Regions from separate parts of the Homo sapiens genome. Here region 1 is linked to region 2. A link means that fine-mapping ties the variant in region 2 to the expression of a gene that starts in the linked region. Tissue or cell type: tibial artery. Region 2 holds a variant in brackets; the other region holds the start of a gene. All regions are shown on one strand. Distances are from middle to middle.

Region 1 (8,177 bases), 160 kb after region 2:
AAGGGCATTTTCAATTTCTTAGAGGGCCAGGAGACCAGAAAAATAAACACATCACAAAGTTACTAGTGTGCCCGGATATTTTTTAAGTTACTACTAGAGACTAGGTAGCTCATTCAGATACTTCGATTTTCTGTTGTTGTTGTTTTTTAAGACAGAGTCTCACTCTGTTGCCCTGGCTGGAGTGCAGTGGCACAATCTCGGCTTACTGCAACCTCTGCCTCCCGGGTTCAAGCGATTCTCCTGCCTCAGCCCCCAACCCCAAGTAGCTGGGATCACAGGCACGCGCCACCATGCCTAGCTAATTTTTGTATTTTTAGTAGAGATGAGGTTTTGTATTTTTAGTAGAGACGGGTTTCGCCATGTTGGCCAGGCTGGTCTGGAACTCTTGACCTCAGGTGATCCAACTGCCTTGGCCTCCCACAGTGCTGAGATTACAGGCATGAGCCATCACACCTGGCCCAAATACTTCAAAACTTAATTCCATCGGATCAAAGTGAACTAACCAATCATGAAGCAGTTTATACCCTTTAGTGTGTTTCCCCTAGTAAAACCTAGTTTGGAAAGCCCTTTGGTAAAGATTCTAGTGTATTATATTGTAAATAAAGATATTTAGCTTACAAATATCAACTGGCAATGGATAAAATAACTACTTTTCTAAGTCACCTGAGAGTTTCCCTAGTTTGCAACATGAAACAATGTAGCCCCTGCTGCATCCTGGGAAAGGAATGTCCATGAATTGTGACTGTGTAAAGGTGTATGTAAGCAGGGAATGCCTGACACACTCCTTCAGATCACCCAGAGGGGATGGAGTGAAGGAAGACGACTCCTTCTTTCCCCTCCTAGTTGGAACCAGAAAGTGTGGGCCAGCATAACACCTTCCAGAAAAGAATTGAGTTGGAATATCTCCCAAAAGCTAGGAGGAGGTTTCAAATACAGCAATCCTGCACTCAGCATCTCTCATTTTTCTCTACCCGGTGCTCAATTCCTGAAAAGAGCATGGCCTCAATGTCCAATGATGTCAGCAACAGGGAGAAGGATGTCAGAGCCCCTTGGATGCTGGGGTGGCAGCGAGGTCCTCACCTCATGGAGTCTGAGACCTGAGGGGTGGCGAGCACGACCAGCCTCCTGGTGGTCCTGTGCTGTTTCAGAGATGATCCCAGGACCAGGGCACCTTTGGCGTAGGCATCGTTTGTGGTTAGTGTCACAAAGGCCTGATCTTAATACAAAGAAAAAAAAAACACTCATTACAGTATCTTATCTGGAGAAAGCCTTTTCCCCAGGAACCCATTCAAACAGTAATTCAGCAAAACCAGTTCCTCTAACATCAACTTTCTCTATGAATCAAGCTGTAGCCCTTTGGGGAGAAAACCCCAAGTGCCCACTTCAAGAATGGTTCAAGATCATAGCAGGCACATATGGCAACCTTCAACAGGTTGATTAAGCTATAGAAATTAAATCCGACACGCTAAATTCTCAGACAAAACAATAGCTTAATACCAAGAGTTTGAACTCCAGGCAACTAACAGATGGTAATGAAGAGATCAAGTAGTACATTTGCTGTTTCTTCTACAAGGTACTGTAGACAGTGTTTTCAGACAAGCACAAAACCAACCGTCAAACTCAATTCAGTCAGTCTGAAAGCAGAGTCCATATTCTTCATTCTGGTGCTTACGTTTATGCCATGCCTCAGGAATGTATGTATGTATGTATTTTTTAAGACAGGGTCTCACTCGGCCACCCAGGCTGGAGTGGAGTGGTGTGATCATAGCTCACTGCAGCCTCGAACTCCAGGCATCTTATACATAACTGTTTCCTCAACGTGGAGCAAAAGCTCCCCTGCCCCAATATCCCTGAAAAATAACATTGAGTCTCTCCTCAAGTATCAGCTCCTCAAAGAGGCTTTCCCTCCTTGATGCTTCTATCTAAATAGTTATCAATCACTGATAAATAGATTTGGAGATCACCCAAGAAGCCCTAAACAACTGCCTGCTTTTCTTTGGAGAAGAAGGTGCAGGTCCATCCTGCACCCTCCCCCTCCCCCCGCCCAAACCAACAGACACGCACCCCAATCTCCAATAATCACTTAGTTGCCAGAAGAGAAGGTAAATACATGGATTTTTCCTCCTGCTGAACAGTCCCCACCCTCCCAAGACCCCTAGCACAGGCTTCAAGATTTCTCCAGTCATTCCCTGGGACAATTCTGGGCCATGTTCCATCTCCAAGAAACATTAGCAAGTTGGTGGGCATCCAAATGCATAGGACACTTCGGATCAAGTTCTGGTAGGAGTCAGTTGCTTAACCAGCGAGTTGGGACATTTTGTCATGAAGTCCTTCTCTTTCTGACCTGGCTTTCCCTCATTCTCCCTTGCCCGTTTTCCAAGGTGGAGGCTGGAAGCAGTAGAAATTCCACCGAGACATGAGAGGAAGTTGTGGGTTGCCTAGTGGGCCAGCGCATCCCTCGGCTGCTGACCTGAGAGCCATCTTCACACATTTTATTAGGCCCTCTCCCACGGCAGGCCAACTACTAAGTTGTAGGAAGACCAGTTCCCCACCCCCGAAGGGCCACCAGCTTCCCAGTCACTCACACTCTAGGAAAGCTCTGAACAGTGGCACCTGTCCCTTGACAGGCCCATCAACATCCGCCTGTACTTGCTTCTATTATCTTCAGCCCATTATAACATGGGTAACATCGCTGTCAATCTGTACCAAAAATACTTAAGCTAGGCAAAATGAATGATCATCTAACTCAAATGAAGTCCAGGTTCCAGGCGATCATGGAGAAAAATGTAATAAGGTGAGCAGGATTCAAGGATTTCTGGAAGCAAGGATATGGATGATTTCCAAGATTAAATAAGGGATAGAACACAGGTTAGAACACCAGACTAGCCAACATTACAAATGACCAAGAAAGACCAATGACAGCTGGGTAGGAGTTTAATCTTCCTAAAGACGGCTGAACTCTGGGTTACACCTGCAATCTTTGTGGCAGTTCAACTGCTGTAATAACCCTGGCTATTAGCCTCAATGACACGGAAGGACCAGCTAACTCGGAGCTTCCCAGTGCTGGGGCTAACTCGTGGAGTGGCCCGGACGCCTCGCAACAAGTGAAGCCAAAGCCGGCGCCCTCCCACCAGACGGGGCTCGCGCCCGGGGACGCTAGTCCGACTCCCGGCTTCCCGCAACCCGGCCCCAAAGGCCTAAAAATAGGCTCAGCGTGGCGGCCGGGGCCGGGGCGGGCGGCGGAGGAGCCGGGCGGAGGCCGCAGTATCCCCGCCTCGGAGCCCCTGCTTCCTGGGGTTCCGGGCCGCCAGAGGCCGGGGCAGCTCCCCACGATGCCGCTGCGCCCCGGACTCCCGCCTGGAACCCCCAGGGGAACCGGCTCCCCACCCCCACACGGCCCCGCCGCAGCTGCTCCGCCCGCCGGCCCTTCGCCGTGAGAGCAAGAGGAAGGACGAGGAGACGGAAGCAGGAACGAGAGCTCCGGCCGAGGGCCCGGGCTCTGCCCGGCTGCCCCATCCCTGCACTCTGGGGGGCGGCGGGGCGGCAGCTGACGCAGGCAGAAACACGCCCGGCTGCGGCCAGCCAGCAACTTTGCGGCGGTTTCGTCCTGCCGGGAACACTCCGGGGCTGAGGGCGGAGGAGAAGGGAGGCGGCGGCTGGGCAGGAAGCCGGGGTCCCGGGGCTGGCGGCGGCGGGCTGCGCGGCGGTACCTGTCATGGTGCTGCCGGGTGCGCAGGCGGCCGGGGCAGCCTCAGGTTGGTGACTCAGAGAAGCCGGCACCGGGAGGGAGCGCGGCCAGCGAGGAGGCACGGCGGGGAACCGAGCGTCTGCCCCGTGCGCTCTTATAGCGGCCGTCACGTGGCCGCGCACGCTCTCGCTGCCGTCCGCATCCTCCCAGCTGCGCGGCCGGCAGGGGCGGTGGCCCGCGGGGCTCCGGGTCCCGCGTCTCCCTCGGCTCCTCCTCCCTCCCTCGGGGCTAGGCTGCCGCTGCGGCTGCGGCTCACCGGCGCCCCTGCTCCTACTTCCCCGGGGCGCCTGCCCTTGTCAACCGCGCGCCCCCTGTCGCCGCTAAACCTGGGAGTTAAGGGGGACTTTGGGGCTGAGTGCGGCATCAAACTCCCCAAGAAGCCAAGGGTTAGGGAACCTTAAAAAACAAGCAAACAAACCCCAGATTACTCTAGTTAAAATCGTGAGTCTGAACTGCTTGAATGAAACGTAAAATTTACGCTTTTTTTGCAGAATTTCGATCAGCCTCTATAATCATTCCTTAGTGTACTCACAATGGTTTTGTACCCTTAACCTAAAAAATATAGTGAATATTTCGTAAATGTTAAATTCTTGGAGCCATCTGCATCAATTAGGCATTTAAGTGCTTCATTTAATCCTTGTACGAACTCAGTGAGGTGTTACATATTCATTTTACAGACGAGGAGGAAACTGAGCTCAGAAAAGTTAAATTAACTTTTCTTTTCTTTTTTTTCTTGTATTTTTAGTAGAGACAGAGTTTCACCATGTTGGCCAGCCTGGTCTGGAACTCCTGGCCTCAAGTGATCTGCCAGCCTTAGCCTCCCAAAGTGCTAACTTTTCTATAGTCATATAATATAAATGGAGAAAGTAGGATTTAAACCCTGGCAGTTTGGTTACAGAATCAACCTTCCCACCCAGAAAGTCTTGGTGCCTCTTGTACACAGGGGCTCCAAAAAGGTTAGTAAATTATTGTAACTGTGGTTAGCCAATGCTAACCTGTTTCACAAATCTTGAAATGGTCAATTTGTCATTTTTCTAGGAAGTTGAGAAATAGCTTTAATGTGATCACATCCTTCTCTGCTCCCCATCCCCAGTCCAAACACAGAACAAGCCTCGGGTAGTTCAGTTCTCTGCAAACTGAAAACTGAAATTGCTCGGTAAATGTTGAATGAGTACTGCAAAGCCATTTGGAAACCAATCAGGAAGTTGACATCAGTTCAAAAAGCAAAACAGATGCTTAAGAATAAGTGATTTATTTGCAAAGGTGGTACTGCTGTCCTCAAACCAGTTATATCACTGTTTCCTCGTGTGTGGGTGTGGATCTCCTACATCAGAATCACTTGGGGGCACTGGTTAAAGCGTAGATTTTTGGGCCTAAGCCCAGACCTCCTGAATCAGAATCTTAAGGGTAGGTTTATTTTGGTGCAAAATAATTTTGAAATCCATGCATTTTTTTTTTATAATATGTATATTCTATGGACTTTTTGAAGTCGCGTCATATACTCTTGAGGTAATGAAATACTCTGTAGGCATAATCATTATATATTTTTAATATAAAAAGCTGTTCAAAATATATTATTTGAAGAAAAACAGGTTACAAAACAAAAAGAATCTTAAGGGTAGAACCTTAAAATCAGTATTTTAAATATCACCTTCCAGGAGCCTCTCTTGAGTCCTTCCTAGTCTTGACCATGGCCTAGAGACCGCTGATCACATGGGAGGCCCTCCCAGTTACTTGGCATTATGTGCTTCCGTTGTAGGAAACAGAAAAGTGGAAAGGGCAATAGATGGGTTTCCACTTATTCAAAAGATATAGACATAGAAGAGTTGGAGCTCTTTAAGGAACACAAAGGCTACACTTTTGTATCTTAAGTGGGGAGAGGGAAAACAAAGAGAGGTACTTCTCAGTCTGATTGCTCTTTTGCAGACTGAGAGGTGAACTTGGAAGAGTGAGATTTCCATCTTTCACCCAGAACCCTCCTGCCATCAGCTGACCCTTAACCATCTACTTCTTGCAGCCTACTATCTCAGGCTGGACTTAGCCAGGGATGTGGTGATGGGGCTGAAAGGGCAAAGCCAGGAGGTAGAACTGGGGACAACTGGGAAAAACAGAAAAGCTTCCCTTAGAACAAGCTCCTCTCTGCTGCAACTCCCAGGACGTTTAAGTAAAAGGAACGGTTACCACAGCTTCCCTTCCTGAGCTTCATGTATATTTACACAAATAGAAAGTTTACAGCTTTTACCACTTTGAATCAAATAGGGACATTTTGAGGTTGCTACAATCTGTTCTTCTTCATTGTCTTAATATAGATCATAATGACCCCACTGCCTACTTTTCCTGAGGCTGCCCTGCAGTGAGCTTCAGTCTGGTGTGAGAGCAAGACCTCTCAAACTTTAATGCGCACACAGATTGCCCAAGGATCTTATTAAAATGCGGATTCTGACTCAGTAGTTTGGGGGTGGGTCTCCCAGGTGATCCCCAGGCTATGGACCCACACTTTGAATAGTGAGGTGTTCAAACATTTTGGATTGTAAGGCCTTAGAGGTAGTGGATAAACATGGTATAGTGAGGCAAATGTTTCAGATTTTAGCTTGTTATTTTTTTTCTTGTGAAACTTGAACTAGTAAAATTACAGAATCCTAAAAGAAAGATTTAAGTTAAAAAAGATAAGTTATACCCTACATCAGTAGGCATGACTATTAACCATTTAAACCTATGCTGAATTCATATATTCGGAATGGTCCAAAATTCATTTTAAATTGGCTTTGTAATGCATTATGTAATTTTTTTGGCAGGATACTTACCTTCCTAATTAAGTTTTGTTTAAGATAATGCTGAAATCAGTTTGCATTCTTTTGAGCACACACACTAATTGATGGTGGGGGCAACTGACCTGGAAATATATTCCGGAGCAGAGGGCAACCTACTCGCCTGAGAATCAAATGGTTCCCACGGAAAGTTTGTGAAATACATATACCACATCTGGCCAGACACAGGAACTAACTAGTCAACTAACTTAAAATTTTGCCCTTAATTGATAACATACACAATCTGTACCTGGGATTGTTGTCGGTAATCACAATATCAAGCAAAAGTTTGGTTTCAAGAAATAATATCCTTGGAGGCCCAAAGTAGTCCGTTCTTCACTTGAAAGCTAGAGTCCCAAACTCCAAAAGTTGCAGTAGCCTGATGGCTGGTTACATAGCTTTTTTTTTTAATCCTTATTGTTACATAACTCACATTGTGTAAAATTCAGCCACTTGTGCTGAATTAAAGTGTATACCTAAATGGTTTTTAGTGTATTCACAGAGTTGTACAACTATTACCACAATCTAAGTTTAGAACAATTTCATCAACCCAAAAGAAATCTGTACCCATTAGCAGTCACTCCTTACTCTCTTCTTCTTTCCCTCAGTCCTGGGCAACTACTAATCTACTTTCTGTCTAAACATTTGTCTATTGAGATTTACCTATATGTTGTCTTGTGTAACTGGTTTCTTTCATTTAGCATAATGTTTTCAAAGTTCTTCCATGTTGTGAAACGTATCAATATTTCATTTCTTGGCCAGGTGCAGTGGCTCACGTCTCTATTGCAGCACTTTGGGAGGCTGAGGCAGGCAGATCACCTGAGGTCAGGAGTTCAAGACCAGCCTGGCTAACATGGCGAAACACCATCTCTACTAAAAATACAAAAATTAGCCGGGCATAGTGGCACACACCTATAATCCCAGTTACTCAGGAGGCTGAAGCAGGAGAATCGCTTGAACACGGGAGGGGTTGCAGTGAGGCAAGATTGCGCCACTGCTCTCCAGCCTGGGTGACAGGGTGAGACTTTGTCTCAAAAAAAAGAAAAAAAATGGCAGAAGCCGAGCCGGGCCGGCCGGGCGAGCGGGGAGGAGGAGGAGCCGGGCGGGCTGGCGGGCGGCCGGGTGGCGGCGGCGGCATGGCGGAGCCGAGCGGGGCCGAGACGAGGCCCCCCATTCGGGTCACCGTCAAGACCCCCAAGGACAAGGAGGAAATTGTGATCTGCGATCGAGCCTCGGTCAAGGAGTTCAAAGAGGAAATCTCCCGGAGGTTTAAGGCTCAGCAGGATCAGCTGGTCCTGATCTTGTCAGGCAAGATCCTCAAGGATGGGGACACACTGAACCAGCACGGAATCAAGGACGGGCTCACTGTCCATCTGGTCATCAAGACCCCTCAGAAGGCTCAAGATCCAGCTGCTGCCACTGCTTCTTCCCCCTCCACACCTGACCCTGCCTCAGCACCCTCCACCACGCCTGCTTCACCCACCACCCCTACCCAGCCCTCCACCTCTGACAGTGCCTCTTCGGATGCTGGCAGTGGAAGCCGGAGGAGCAGTGGTGGGGGGCCCTCTCCAGGGACTGGGGAGGGATCCCCCAGTGCTACTGCGTCCATACTCTCTGGCTTT
Region 2 (8,000 bases):
ATCACCTAAACGAAGACTTTCAATTAAGCAAGACTGAAAAGACAGGGCACAGCTAATATAATAATTGGCATTAAATTATTGGCAGGGACAAATCAGGCAACACCTTGACCTGATGACCAAAAATTAACATCACCAAAGAGGGGTAGATGAACAGCATGTGCCTCCAGATGTGATACCCTTAACACAAAAATCACCTATGCAATATTCTGGCTGAAAATGCATAATCTGAATCTAACCATTAAAAAAAAAAAAGCAAACCCTAAATAAGGAATACTCTCAAAAAAAAAGTAGAGGGGAAAATTATATTTTTCAAAAATGCTCATGTCATAAAACATAATGAAAGGCTATAGAAATATTCCAGCTTCAAAGGAGGCTAAAGAGACATCATAGTTAAACACACTACCTGATCCTAGACTGGGTCTTGAACTGGAGAAGGGGAAATGCTATCAAGCCATTGGGTCAGTTGACAAAATTAGACTATGAACCATAAACCAGATAAAGCACTGTGTCAATGTTAAATTTATTAAAGCATACTACTGTATTCTGGTATGCAAGAGAGTATCCTTATTCTTAGAAAATATACGCTGAAGTACTTAGGGGCAAAAGACTGATGTATGCAGTTTACCTCCCGAAGAAGAATCAGAAAACAGTGTATGTATATCTGTGTGCACAGAAAGCACAGAGTGCATAAAAGAGAGAGAGAAGCAAATAGGGTAAAATGTTGACTGTGGAGAAATCTGTGTGGGGAATGGGAATATATAGAATATTCTTCTTTTTTAAAAAAGAGTCAAAAGAGTCAGGGTCTTGCTGTGTCACCCAAGCTGGAGTGCAGTGGTACGACCATAGCTCATTGTGGCCTTGAACTCCTGGGCTCAAGTGATCTTCCCATCTTAGCTTCCAAAGTAGCTAGGACTACAGGTATGTGCCACCACAACTGGCTAATTTTTTAATTTTTTGTACAGATGGGATCTCACTATGTTACCCAGGCTAGTCTCGAACTCCTGGCCTCAAGCAACTCACCTGCCTCAGCCTCCCAAAGGGTTGGGAAGAATATACTTATTCTTGCAACTTTTCTGTAAGTTTGAAATTGTTTCAAAATAAAGAGTTAAAATAATTGCCAGGGATGAGTAGGAAGCTGTCACTCTTAGATCAGTAAGGATGCTCCCTCTGGGTCCCTCCCCCCAGGACAATGCTGCAGTAGCTGTGGTGCCCTGGGACAATGTGCTAACATTTCTAAATAAGAAGAGTGGGACAGGGATACATAATCCTAGATTTATTTATTTATTTATTTATTTGCTCCATTTCTTAGCTATCTTTGCTAGAGTTCAAATTAAGGTCAAAGACTATGTTCAGATTGGCCAATCGATCTTCTTAGGAGAGTGGGTATGAATAAGGGAGTCTTATGCTAGTGAAGGGAATTTCTACTGGTTCCTCGGATGTCAGAAGCTGTAACAATGAGGAGGCAGAGAGAGATATACATTCCACTGTCAGACAGAGCCAGGAAGCTGAATGGCTGTGGCATCCTGAATGTATGATAATTAGAATCAATTTCTGATCATTAATTTCACTCTAAATATCTACAAACAAGAATCAGAAGTTTGAAAAGAGTACCATCTCTTTGTACAGCTGCACTGGTGAGATCGTATTCACAATATACAAATTCCACCCAGCCTCAGCTACAGGAGGTATTTTGATTTTAACACTGGTATCTTTTCTCGAACTAAAAGCAAAACAAAGGACAAGAATTTTAAAATGACATTATTAATAAATGGTAGTTGTAAATGGTAAATATTGGATATAAAATAACTATAAAATCATTTTCATTTACTATTTTCCTCAGTGATTAACTGTACACTCTATTTCTATGGAATATTAGTTCACAATACTACATAGGCTAACTGCATTTAATATTCTGTAATTTTCATGTAATGATAAACCAACTGCTTCCAATTCACTCTGCAAGTATTCTCAAATGAGCAGTAAGTTCAAAGAACAGGCAAGTCCCATCAAGAGGAAAAGATCCTTGACTGCGGAAGTCCCTATACCCAGGCTCTTTTCTGCATTTGACTTTCATGAGTCTAGCATGCCCTGAGCCACAAATCTAAGCAGAAGCAACATCATGGCTGCTGAGAATATGATGAAGACACATAAAACTGTTAAGTCTGCTTAAAGCACTATCTTATCTCTTGCTTTCACTATGTGATACATTTTCTTTAGTGTACAATCTTTTATAATTGTTTATCAAATGAATTTTCAAATGAATTAGAATTTTTAAAACATCATTTAAAAAATTATACTATTAGAATGTCAAATGTGCAAGACTACAAACTGCTTTTCCTCTCCCCAGAAAGCTTTTAGGATCAGTCAGCCCCAGACCACTCTGTGTACACTCAAAGTGATCAGTTACCAAAGTCAACCTCTGATTCCTGTTGATGCAACAAAGCACAGCCACTAACAATTTGAAAAAGTAAAAATCTATGTTAAAAATAACCCATGTTTGATATGAAATACACTATATGCTTCACTCCCTGAAGAGATTTCTTTCTTGATTAAATTTTCCTTAGAGAAATTAGATTGCATTCTCTACCACTAAGTAGGAAAACATCAAATAGAAGCATAACTAGTCTGGAATTAAGCATTCTATTCTAAACAATGGGAAAGCAGAAACCTAATAAATAACAAGAGATGAATGTTATCAAAATACAACTTTATTTTCAGATACATGAGCACATATCTATAGATCATAAATGTGCTTTAAGGTAAGACATACATTATTAATTTCTTTCATAATATCAGAAAATAATTTTAGATAAAAATGTAACAACTGAAAGGGTCAAAGAAGAAAGACAGTAAAAAGTCCTGTAGTTTCAATTAGCATTATAGGCTCAGTCTTTCTCATTAATTACACAGAAAAGCATGGCCTTTAACTAATCTAAAACACCTTTGATTTTTACTGAAACTATTTTATAATCCATTTTCTCCTAAAAGTTTCCAGGTCAGTTATAAAGTGTATTACAGAGATTGTTAGAACCTTCTTTTCTTTCTCTGGAAAAAGACCACCATAAAAAAGCCATTTGATCATTCCAAGTTATGATTTGAAAAAAGATAAACACAAAATATACCAGTTACAACTCATTCCAGAAACTGGCAGGAATGCCTGGGGCAAGGGGATGCTTACAGAAGCCTCTTGGGTGACTGTCTTCTCTCTGGAATGGCTTCAGGTTCTGCTTTAGTCAAAAGTATGATGTGGTTTTTAAAGTGACAGATGGCTTTCAAGCCTATGAAAAGCTGTATTCTTAAAGCACAGACATCCATACTGACAGGTGGGCAAGCCTAGTAAAGGAAAATCACATATTTAAGCAAGAAATAAAGGTACATGCACTTCAATCTTCAAAAATCAGTCAGTTTATTTGATCAAATCTCTTCTGCTGCCACCATCCCATACCCACCACCACCAAAAAACAAACAAACAAACAAAAGACCAACCCAGATTCCTATTCTTAACAGAAGAGGTTATCTAAACCTATGTAACCAATAGTGTATTCCATAGAGCTACTCAGCCAACAAACTCAGTTATTGATTGATTGAATAAATACGGAAAGAGGGTCCCACAGCTGCAGGAACTTGTGTGTGTGCCCCACAGAGTGGCTCCACAGATACCTCCAGGAGATGAAGCTGGTACTCTGCCACCCAGGGAAACCCCCACAACTAGCAGGATGGTTGGGGGTACGCCCAAATGGGGTTTTTAGGAAAAACCAGACACTATGAAAGGACATTCTACTGCTTGTAGAGTACATAAAATGGTTTCTTTGCGGATGTGTGTGTGAAAGAAATGCTTGTATGTTCCGATGGCCCCTGACTGTTAGTCTGTTAGGTACGAATAGTGCCTGGAATGGCGGACAGGCTGGGACATGTCAGGTAAACTAGAGGAGCCAGCCTTTTGCTCTTGTAAAGGACCATTAATTCAAGTAGAATGAATAAGAAAACTAATGGAAGAGCTCTATTCTGGGAGCTCACAAAATGATGCTGCCAGGACCCTGCCTTCTTGTCCATGCATGCTGTTTTGATTCTGAGGTCATCTTCATTGTTACCTCCATGTAAAAATAGTTAAGGTGGCTTGGTTAGTGCTGAGGAGTCAGAATCTCAGAGGAAAAGGAGACAGACCACAAGCACTTTCAACCAGACTCTTGAGGTTGTGAAACTTTTTTCAGACATCACAGCTCCAAAGCCTGAGTCAGCAGGTGGGCTAAACGTGTGCTTGTTTAACTGGCACCTAGGGCTTCAGAACTGGTGGAGTCCCAGGAAAGGAGGAACCGTGAGGTGTGATTATGCCTTCCCCCTCCTACCTCCACTGGCCTCAAGGGCAGCATACCTCCACCAGATGCCCACCTCTCCTTATCCCTCCCCTTTGTCTCTTCCTTGTTCCTTCATTCTG[C/T]CTTTTATAAGACTCTGAAAATACATGGAATTATTTTTTTTCCAAAGGTACATTGATCCTACTTCAATCTATTAGGTACTTTAAATTACACCATCACCCCTATATAAGCCTATGTCTTTCTGAGGTTTGAAAACGCAAGGAGGGGAAAGAAGAGGACAAAGAATGGAAGTTTTATTTTTTTAATCTGTTACTTTTCTATTTTTACAAAGGAAATAATCCTGATTTTAAAGTAATCTCTCAAAAAGGCCATGTGTGTATCTTATACAAACAAAGGCACAGGAAATCTGTGGTTCTGGTTTCCCAAGAGGCTGACAGCAGGCAGTAAGCCTGGTCAGCAACAGAAAACCACAGGCAGGCCATTAAAAAGGGTCACTAGGAACTCAGAGACCATGCTTGCCATAAAACACTATCATATGACACAGTTTGGGTGACAGTGACCGTGAAAGAGTATCTCAGACACATTAGGCACTAAGTCGGGGCTGGCTTGTTAAGATAACCACCATTACTGAAGGCTTATCCTTCTGGAAAAAGGTATTCCAGTTTCCAGACAGATATAAACCAATTTTTGAAACACAGAGCATGATAATTTGGGAGCTTCTTGCAGCATGTATATTCCTAACAAATATCCAATTCAAATAGCTTATACTTCAGAAGTAAAATAACATAGATCAATATAATGTAAATGATCAGTGTATTTCTGAGAACAGAAATTCAAAGTCAGAAAACACCGAATCTCAACATAATAATGCCTACATTTATTCTGTGGTCAAGAGGCTTTTTTTTTTTTTTTTTTTTTTTTTTTTTAGAAACCAAGCACTTTACTTCTCACTAAAAATGAGATTATTGATCTACCATAACCATTAACTCTTCGATTAAGTATAGAAGGTTATCAAAGGCTTATAAAATACAGAATTACAGGCATAGCTGATAATAGTATAAATAAATCATTTTAATGCATCGTATTCAATTTTGTGCTCTTAAGTATATTGATTTCTGGACTGTTTTGTTAACAGCTCTGTAAAACTGCCACCAGTATTTCCATTTAGTAAAATACAATTGGGCCAGGCATGGTGGTTCATGCCTGTAATCCCACCATTTTGGGAGGCTGAGGCAGGCAGATCGCTTGGGCCCAGAAGTTCAAGACCAGCCTGGGCGACACGGCAAAACCTGTCTCTGCAGAAAAAAAAATAATAATAATAATAATAATACAAAAAGAATCAGCAGGGCATGGTGGTGCACACCTGTAGTCCCAGCTACTTGAGGGGCTGAGGTGGCAGGATCACTTGAGTCCAGGAGTTCGAGGCTGCAGTGATCTATGACTTTGCCACTGCCCTCCAGCCTGGGTGACAGAGCAAGACCCTGCCTCGAAAAAATTAAAAGTTAAAATCAAAAAAATAAAAAATAAAATTGTAGCATACAGTAGTTGTGAACTGCTCTCAGTTCACACTTTTTATATTCTTTACCAAACTTTAAAAACTATGCACTAAATCAATTCGGAGTGAAATGTTTGCAAAGCAATCTTAAAAACTGTCAACTAAGCCATGAATCACAAAATCCTCACTATTTTACATCCAAAAGTTCTAATTCAATACATTAGACAACCTTAAGCTCTTTTGTTCTTGCCTAGCTTAGGTCTGAGAGCAAATCTACGAGTATTCATGTGCTCCCTTGTGATCTTAAGGTTTCACTATCTTCATAAGCCAGTTCTTACCTTCAGGGTGGTGTCCATGTACGGGTCCTCCTCACGAGCTGCCGCCGCACTGCACCGCACAGTGAAACACTGCAGGTTGTTACTGAGGAGGAAGACACAGGCTGCTGAGCAAAGTGAGGCCAAGAACCAACATACCCACAGCAGGGAGGGTTTCACAGGCAAACAGGGCAATGGGCAGGGGTGACAGTCAAGTATTTGTCAAATATTGCCAAGTTAAACTTCTTCTCAATAAGAGGAATGCCTCAGAATCCCTGTGGTGTGTTTTTAAAAATATACAACTGGTCCCCATAACACCCCTAGTGAATCGCAATCTCTAGGGGCTGAATCTGGACGTGTACATTTCTACAAAACTCCATATGTGACTCTGATGTGCATCCCTAGTTAGGAACCATGGATCTGGGTCAGTATCTTCATTTTACAGACAAATGATGCCCCCAGTACCTGCCCAAGGTACAGATGGGTGTCTATCAAAACCAAGAGTAAAATCCATTTCTTAACTGTTGTTCTTCCTCAACCACCTCATGATGAAATCCATCCTGGATTATGCTGGACAACACAGACTATGCAAACTCAAATCCAATGGTCGAATTGAAAATGAGAGACCATCTGAAGGCATCTTCAGAATTACCTAGTCCAGCAGCTTGTTTTAAAGATTGGGGCATGAAAGGTTCATGACTGGTCCACCGCCTCTCTGGAGAGTAGAGCCAATTAGATCCCAGGTCTCCTGACCCCTCACACTCCTCTACCTCTTTCCACAACTCCAGGCTGCTTCTGCATACAAAAAGGACCTAGGGACTCCACAGTAAGTGCACAATAGATGCCTGGTTGTCATCTGTGGTTGTTATCTAGGTCAACCCTCGAATATTGACATTAAAAACAGTTAATTAACTTAGAAATTGCTACACAATGATGTATATTTCTGTTCCATTATGTGACGGGACAGAAATTGATATTTTTATTCCTTCCTTCTCCCTCCCTTTTTAAAAAAACTAGAAAGTGGGAGAAGTAAAAACGAACTCTTTAAAATAAAAAAAAAGACTAAAGCAAACCTAACAGTAATATTAAATTTAAAAAATGTCCTCATAAAAAAAGGCATTCTGATATTTTCAGTTAGGAGGCTTAGCACAATTTAAGAGGTAGTCAGGCCTCTCTCCATCTGCTGGTGCTTCCACTTCAGCCTCAGCCATCTCTGTCTATCTCTGCAACGTTCTAGGAAATGACCTCTGGAGTCCTGACAATAACTAGGACAGTAGCACTACCACTTACAAATCTGGAGTAGAGTTAGCAACCTTGGGAAGTAAACTGAGAGAGAGGGAAGCAAAAAAGCACCTGCAGTGGGACCGGAAGGACAGATGAGAATAGCTATGACCGCAAAAACAAATAGCCTTTAGATTTTAGAGATAAAAAGGCAGGGTTTCGGCCAGGCGTGGTGGCTCAAGCCTGTAATCCCAGCATTTTGGGAGGCCGAGACAGGCGGATCATGAGGTCAGGAGATCGAGACCACCCTGGCTAACACAGTGAAACCCCGTCTCTACTAAAAATACAAAAAAAAAAAAAAAATTAGCTGGGCGTGGTGGTGGGCGCCTGTAGTCTTAGCTACTCGGGAGGCTGAGGCAGGAGAATGGCATGAACCCGGGAGGCGGAGCTTGCAGTGAGCCAAGATCGTGCCACTGCACTCCAGCCTGGGTGACAGAGTGAGATTCTGTCTCAAAAAAAAAAAAAAAAAAAAAAGGCAGGGTTCCCTGACTTACCTCCACCTGTAGGAATCCAGTCTATTGGCTACTGTTGGAATCCTAAGCAGAAATGTATACTAGAGAAAGAATAAACTGAAATGTGCTGGCATTGAAAGATGTC

The links. PIP is the estimated chance that this variant, and not a neighbour inherited with it, causes the effect.
Region 1: GYG1 starts here. The variant in region 2 is fine-mapped to the expression of GYG1 in tibial artery (GTEx, PIP 0.92).

Annotation. Positions count from the first base shown.
Region 1 is chr3:148,987,181-148,995,357 of GRCh38, reverse strand. GYG1 (glycogenin 1) reads right to left here and starts at 3,818. Exons shown (of 8, transcript NM_004130.4): 1 at 3,711-3,818; 2 at 1,081-1,216. The coding sequence starts at 3,717. It also overlaps the pseudogene UBQLN4P1. RefSeq lists silencers at 2,802-3,096, 3,130-4,179.
Region 2 is chr3:149,148,827-149,156,826 of GRCh38, reverse strand. It overlaps HPS3 (HPS3 biogenesis of lysosomal organelles complex 2 subunit 1), which reads right to left. Exons shown (of 17, transcript NM_032383.5): 6 at 6,147-6,228; 7 at 3,179-3,333; 8 at 1,612-1,720. Among named protein-coding and RNA genes, the nearest start is that of HPS3, 23 kb to the right of the region's middle. The variant C/T (reference allele first, on the strand shown) is at 4,436.